2 linked regions of the Homo sapiens genome follow. The protein of the gene in region 2 purifies or fractionates together with the protein of the main gene of each other region. This does not show direct contact. Each region holds a gene or a part of one and is shown on either strand. Other genes may lie near its edges.

Region 1 (3,820 bases), about 140 Mb from region 2:
ACACTCCATCTCAAAAAAAAAAAAAAAAAAAAAAAAAGGGTATGCTGAAGTAAGTTTTAACTCATTGGAAACAACAAACTTTCCTTTGTTGATTACTGTCAATCAGATGGCACAAAGATATTTCAATGTCCATATTATCTTTACCAAAAAGATAATAGGCCAGGCATGGTGGATCACACCTGTAATCCCAGCACTTTGGGAGGCCAAGGCAGGTGGATCACTTGAAGTCAGGAGTTCAAGACCAGCCTGGCCAACATGATGAAACCCTGTTTCTACTAAAAATACAAAATGAATTAGCCAGGCATAGTGGCTCATGCCTGTAGTTCCAGCTACTTGGGAGGCTGAGGCATGAGAATCACTTGAGCCCGGGGAGGCAGAGGTTGCAGTGAGCGGAGATCTTGCCACTGCTCTCCAGCCTGGGTAACAGAGCCAGACTCTGAGTCAAAAAAGAAAGAAAACCCAGTATCATAAATCAAAGAACAGAAGTCCTACCTTCCATAGTGTTGAAGATTTCCTGGCATTTCTGCTCTTATTGGAGAATCCCTTCCTGCTAACTGCAAATACATTTAATGTTGAGAATGACTTATCAGACTTTTTATTTATTTTCCAAGCTTTGAAAAACAGCATTATCTACTAATTGGTTCCATGCCATTTGTCTTTTTCTTTTAGAGACAGGATCTTGTTCTGTTGCCCAGGCTGGAATGCATGCAGCATGATCATGGCTCACTATAGCCTTGAACTCCTAGGCTCAAGCAACCCTCCCACCTCAGCCTCCTGATAGAGGCATGTGTGACCAAACCTGGCTAGTTTTTAAATTTTTGGCCAGGTGAGGTGGCTCACGCCTATAATCCCAGCACTTTGGGAGGCCAAGGCAGGCAGATTACTTGAGCCCAGGAGTTTGAGAACAGCCTGGGCAACATGACGAGATCCCATCTCTACAAAAAATTAACCAGGTGTGGTGGCACACACCTGTAGTCTCAGCTACTTGGGAGGCTGAGGTGACAGGACCGCTTGAGCCCAAGAGTTTGAGACCATCCGAGTCAACAAAGTGAGACCTCATCTCTTAAAAAAAATATTGGAGAGCGGGAGGACAAGAGGGAGGGAATGAACAAGCGAAGAGAGTGAGTTCAACTGAGCCAAAATGATTTTTGTGTGTTAAGCTCTGAAAATACTTTGGGGAGAACACAGTGATATCATTTAAAAGTTCTCTGCAGGAAACCAGGAAATTAAGTACTAGAGTGGAAAGCCAGGTAGGCACTAAAACATCTACTGAAAATTAGGTCTCCTGTTGATAGAGGAAAATACTACACAGGTTGATTGTTTTAAAGATCACTGGCATTTTAAAGGTTTCTAGAACCCAACCTAAAATCCAATTTTTTTGGCCAGGAGCAGTAGCTCACGCCTGTAATCCCAGCACTTTGGGAAGCTGACGCAGGTCAATCACCTGAGGTCAGGAGTTCGAGACCAGCCTGGCCAACATGGTGAAACTCCATCTCTACTAAAAATATAAAAATTAGCCAGGCATGGTGGCAGGTGCCTATAATCTCAGCTACTTGGGAGCCTGAGGCCGGAGAATTGTTTGAATCCAGGAAGCGGAAGTTGCAGTGAGCTGAGATTAAACCACTGCACTCCAGCCTGGGCGAAAAGAACGAAACTCTGTCCCAATAAATAAATAAATAAATAAATAAAATAAAATACATAAATTAAAAGTAAAATAAAATCCAATTTTCCTCTACTCAATGACTCACTCCTCTTAAAAACATGCTTTGTGGACTGGGGGCAGTGGCTCACGCCTGTAATCCTAGCACTTTGGGAGGCCAAGGTGGGCAGATCACAAGGTCAGGAGTTCGAGACCAGCCTGGCCAACATAGTGAAACCTGTCTCTACTAAAAATACAAAAAAATTAGCTGGGCGTGGTGGCGGGCGCCTGTAATCCCAGGTACTAGGGAGGCCGAGGCAAGGAGAATTGCTTGAACCTCTCCATCCCAGGTGAAAGTTCGAGACTCCGTCTCAAAAACCAAACAAACAAAAACACACACAAAAAAACCAACACACAGACACACAAAACGATGCTTTCTGTATCACATCTGAATGTCACATACTGGAGGAGAGCTGCATGTGGTTTTCTGTGCTAATTGATATACAGTGACATAAATAACACACTAAGACAAAACATACATCAGAAACGATCAGAAACACCCCCATGCACCACCATCTCACTCCACCTGCCCTCTCTGTGCCCCTGCATGTAATTGTGTGCAGCTATGGTACCCATCATACCTCAGGTTCGATGTGCCTTGGGAAAAGGGAGGTGGTAAGGTATTTGTATAAAATTCTCATGTCATCTTGTTCTAATCCACTCCTGCAACAACAGAAAAGCACTGGGTTAAACGTTTCGAACTGTCTTCTGTCTTTCCACTGCTGTGATAAAGCTCATTAAACAAAAATTTTTTTTTCAAGTCATTTTTAGTAACACAGAATAAATTCTAACTTTTTAAAGTTTAAAGCTACTTAAAACTCAAAGCAATCTATTTTTCTACCTGAGATCAAAATGAGTTTCCTTTTTCCTAAACATAATTCTTAGCATTGAGGTAAATCTGAATTTACGTGGTATACTTTGTCAAACTTTTCCAAAGAATTTGAAGCCCTGGATAAAGCTCATTTTTTATTAAAAAAAAATTTTTTTTTCTTTTTTTTTTTTGAGACAAGGTCTTGCTCTGTCACCCAGGCTGGAAGCAGTGGTGCGATCATGGCTCACTGCAGCCTTGGCCTCCAGGGCTCAAGCGGTCCTCCCATCTCAGCCTCCAGACTAGCTGGGACTACAGGCATGCGCCACCATCAGCTAATTTTTGTATTTTATGTAGAGATGGGGGTCTTGCTACGTTGCCAGGCTGGTTTCGAACTCCTGGACTCAAGCAGTGCTCCCGCCTCAGCCTCCTAAAGTGCTGGGATTACATATGTGAGCCACTGTGCCTGGTCTCATCTTTTTTCATTTTTCAAGAGATGAGTCTCGTCTGTCGCCCAGGCTGGATTACAGTGGTGTGACCACAGCTTGCTGCAGCCACCGATTCCCAGGCTCAAGCAAACCTCCCACCTCAGCCTCCTGAGTAGCTGGGACAACTGGTGCTTTTTTCTTTAACATTATATCAAGAGGCTCACCACCTGACCGCGAAGTTAAGGAAGGTAAAGAGTTAAACTTCAGCCCAGGCACTGGAACTTTATCCTGACCTGCAAAAGGCTACTCCTACAGTCCTGTATTTTACATGCCATTTGAGATGAAAAAAAAAGTCACAAGGGATTGGACTCGCTGGTTGAATTCCGTGTAGGATTATGCAGGAAACCTCCAAAGCCACACTGTTTCATTTTAGGAGCAGATGTCTCTTAGCTTCCTGGGTTATATGGTAATGCCACATTCTCTCCCCTAGTCCCCTGGGAAAATATGGGTATGCTGTAGACAGGGAACGTGATCCTAGGTCTCAGAAATGTACATGGATTTTAATTCTCCGGATCTTCGGTGAAGAAAGAGGAGGAAGAGAAAAACAAGCTTTCAGGCAAACCATCTGATCTGAAATGAGGCAGGAAGGAGCAGCACATGGAAAAAGCACAGAGAAACTAGCAGGTATCAGACTCTGGAACCGGTTTTTTAAAAGGAGACAGACAATGAGGCTGGATCTGGGCGTTTTCTATTCAAGATCACTGAAATACCGTGAAGGTGGTCGGGCGCGGAAGCTCACACCTGTAATCCCAGCACTTGGGGAAGCCAAGGTGAGCAGATCACCTAAGGTCAGGGATTCAACACCAGCCTGGCCAACATGGCAAA
Region 2 (3,820 bases):
TTTTGCAAAGAAAATAGAAACTGATGGAACTGGGTTTCTCTCACCTCAATTTCTTGTGATCCAAAGCAACCTGTATTTCCACTCTTTCTATCTTCCGCCCTCAGTCAGGAAAAGACGTATCCCTCCTTTCCATGCTCTGTCATTTCTTGCCTGCTTCCCCAGGAACACTGTGCACTCATACCTTCAACATCCCTGCTGAACAACCCCTGGGGTATGGAAGCATTCCCACATTCTTCTCATCTTTCAAATGACTAGAAGGAGTTGCTCTTATCTGCTGTCTTCATACTCTCACATCCCACCTGCCTCCAACTGAGCTTTGATAGCGGCATTCTGCCAATATTCCCTACAATCAACATGTTGTTAATTCCAAAGAAGACCTTATGGATCTTCACTTTGGGTGGTTCTTGTCAGTATTTGACAGTACTGAGGTTAGAAATACTCTCTTGTTACTTGTGGTATTACATTTTCCTGGTTTTACCCCTTCAGTTTCCTCCAGTCTTTTTTTTTCTTTCTTTTTTTTTTTTTTTTTTGAGATGGAGTCTTGCTCTGTCACCCAGGCTGGAGTGCCGTGGTGCAATCTTGGGTCATTGCAACCTCCACCTCCGGGTTCAAGCGATTCTCCTGCCTCAGCCTCCCGAGTAGCTGGGACTATAGGTGTGTGCCACCACACCCAGCTAATTTTTGTACTTTTAGTAGAGACGGGGTTTCACCATTTTGGCCAGGATGGTCTCAATCTCCTGACCTCGTTATCCACCCGCCTCGGCCTCCCGAAGTGTTGTGATTATAGGCGTAAGCCACTGCACCTGGCCTCCCCTGATCTTTTAAGTAGGTTAAATTGTACCCCTCTTTGTAGCACTTACCAACTATAATTCACTTTACTTTTCCTTTGTAGCATTTATACAATTATAATTATATAATGATGTGTGTATTTTGAGTTACCCTCTATTGCAACCAATAGATAGTAAAATTTATGAGATTAAGAACTATGACTTGCTGAATTATCCATACTTAGCCTAATAGTGGCCTATACTCAGTGTTTAATAAATATTTTTCACATAAAGAATAAAATTCAGGTCAGAATAAAATGTGATCCTTTTACTTCAATGGAATATGCCCACCTTTTCCTAAAATCATGATTAACAGTTTACACAGAACTTTAAACATTTAGAGCTCTATACACAACAAATTAATTTTTCTTATTTTTCATTCTGAAACACTAAGGTTTTCCTGCATACATGTCATTAAAAATAATGAAATGCTTCTTTAAATATGTATGTGCCATACATCTAAGAGTCATCGTATAAGATGGGTACCATTATTCTGCCCATTTTACAGATGAAAAACTGAGTTTCCCAATGCACTTTATATATATAATCCTGACACTCTGGGAGGCTGAGGCAGGTTGACTGCTTGAATCTAGGAGTTTGAGACCAGCCTGGACAACCTGGTGAAACCCTGTCTCCACAAAAAATACAAAAATTAGTGGAGCATGGTGGCACGTGCCTGTAGTTCCAGCTACTTGGGGGCTGAGATGGGAGGATCCCTTGAGCCCAGGAGGCAGAGGCTGCAGTGAGCCAAGATCACATCACTGCATTCCAGCCTAGGTGACAGAGTGAGACTCTGTCTCTAAATAAATTAATTAATTAATTAAAATAAAATAAAATTCTTGTTTCCCTCCTGGCCCAGATTCCCCATATCTAATCAATCACCATGTGCTATTGACCTCGTCTGCTAAATATCCCTTAAGACTGTCCACTTCTATCCCATCCCTCTCCACTGGTGCATGCTGCTACCGTCTCGCCCGGGCCACTGCACCCGGCCACAGCTTGGGCACTGGCGTCCACCCATTTCACGTTATTCCAGTCCTTTCTCCATACAGCACCTAAGTGAGCTTCAAAAGCACCAGTTCTAGCTTAGATTCTTCAGCAGCCTCTGAATGCTCTTGAGATGAAATCTAAATCTTCAGCATGGGTTATACTCCCTGCACAACCTGGCTCTGCCTTCTTCTCTAGCAGCCTATTCACCTGTCACCATCTGTCCCTGCCCCCATCCCCCCCCCCCCCACTGGCTTTCAGTGTCTTTAGCTCACTTCTCTCTGTGTCTCTCACCTGTAGGCCTTTGTAGACACTGCTCCTCTGCCTGGAATCCTCTTTTGCAACAGAGAATCCTTTGCTTCTCCTCAAACACACCTTGCACTTGTCATGTCATATTTAATGTCTATTTTCCAGGCTAGATTATGAGCACCATGAAGGGACAAACACTGCCATATAACCCCCTCTGCCTGAAGCCTAGTTGGCCCTCAACAAAGATGTATTGTATGAATGAATGACGGAAGAATATAGAGTTAGAAGAGTGTGGATCAGTGTTTGGTTGTGCCTCTCTGGTATCTTTGCTGGTTTTAAGACAATTGTAGAAACCATTAAATTTATTTGAACATCCATTTTCTTATCTTTAAAAAGGAGATAAAAGGATTCCTTCACAGTTCTAGTAAAGATTAAATAAGGTAACATAAAAATGTACACTGCTATCTTTAAGGGTCATAGAAATGGTGGCTGTGGTAAATACTGTTGACCTGAGAGACAGAGAATAAGTGTAAGAGAGAAACACAGGATTCATAAAGCCGGAAGGACCTTCAGAGACACACAGAAACTGCTCAATTTACAGATGAAGAAACTAAAGGTCAAAGACCCTAGACCCTTGCTCAAATCTCCTAAGCAAATGGTATGGGCAAACCTGAAGCAAAGTCGCTTGATTTAAGTCTCCTGTAAGCACTTAGAGGTCCTACTGAAAGAAAGCTGGCAGGCCATCAGTCCAGAGAAGACCCCAGAATTCTATGGACCCAATGCTGCACCTGACCGTGCACCTTTCTTGTCTGGTCCAGGCTTAAACTGAAAACTCACCTGCTCAGAATACTGTCCTGCTTAGCCACTGTGTGTACACACACACACACACACACACACACACACACACACACACACACACACTGAGCCATCCTTACAAACTCTTGCAATAGAGCCTGACATAACCAAACAGGCAGGTCCCTAGCACACTGCAGAGTAGTATGTGACAAGATTCTGGCCATCCCAGAGACAGAGATACCATCTATATGGGGCAAAGAGATATGTCTGACATAATTGTACACAGGCAGAAGGACTTTTATGTCCTTTTCCAGTTAACTGACACCATATGCGATTGGCTCCCTATGTCTAGCCCTTAAGTACAAAATACTATAATCCCTATGGGTGATTCTGTGATGTGGCCCTGTTCTCTCAACCACACATCGAATAATATACTTGCTTACTTTAAGACACTTTCTGAAACTTGGCCTAAGGAGACCATGGGACTAAACCTGTAGTCTCTCCTCACTTACATCTGCATGGTTCAGGCCCTCTCCTCCATATACACCATCACGTCTTCAAAACAAGTAGCCTCTAAATAAAAGTGTGTTTCTGCCATATCTAGGGTATATCTATAAATACCATGTGCTACCTGGACATTTTCTGTTCCAATCTAGTGGCACAGTGCATGCCTGCCTCTGCAAGCCCATTGACACCGTTTCTAACTGTCTTTTTTCATTTGGAAATATCAGTGGTCACCTGCTCAGCCACCAGTTACCGCAAAGGGAGAACATACCCCACGTTCCCTATACTTGATCCTATCTCAGTGATCCCGTTGCAATCAGGCATGACAAAGCTAAAATGTGACAAAGTGAAAGGAAATCTGTAAATCATGGTCTTACTCACGTAAAGGCATCAGGAGAGAGTTTTTTGCAATGCTCATTACGTTAGAGTGCAAACATCCTCATCTCCTTCTCCACTGA

What was found.
Region 1: the proteins of ARHGEF35 (region 2) and CCZ1B purify together in Homo sapiens (co-immunoprecipitation; one large-scale study listed by IntAct). This does not show direct contact.

What each region holds. Positions count from the first base shown.
Region 1 is NC_000007.14:6,812,484-6,816,303, forward strand, and holds part of CCZ1B (vacuolar fusion protein CCZ1 homolog B), read right to left. Parts: intron 2,363-3,820; coding exon 2,281-2,362; intron 555-2,280; coding exon 493-554; intron 1-492.
Region 2 is NC_000007.14:144,189,295-144,193,114, forward strand, and holds part of ARHGEF35 (rho guanine nucleotide exchange factor 35), read right to left. Parts: intron 1-3,820.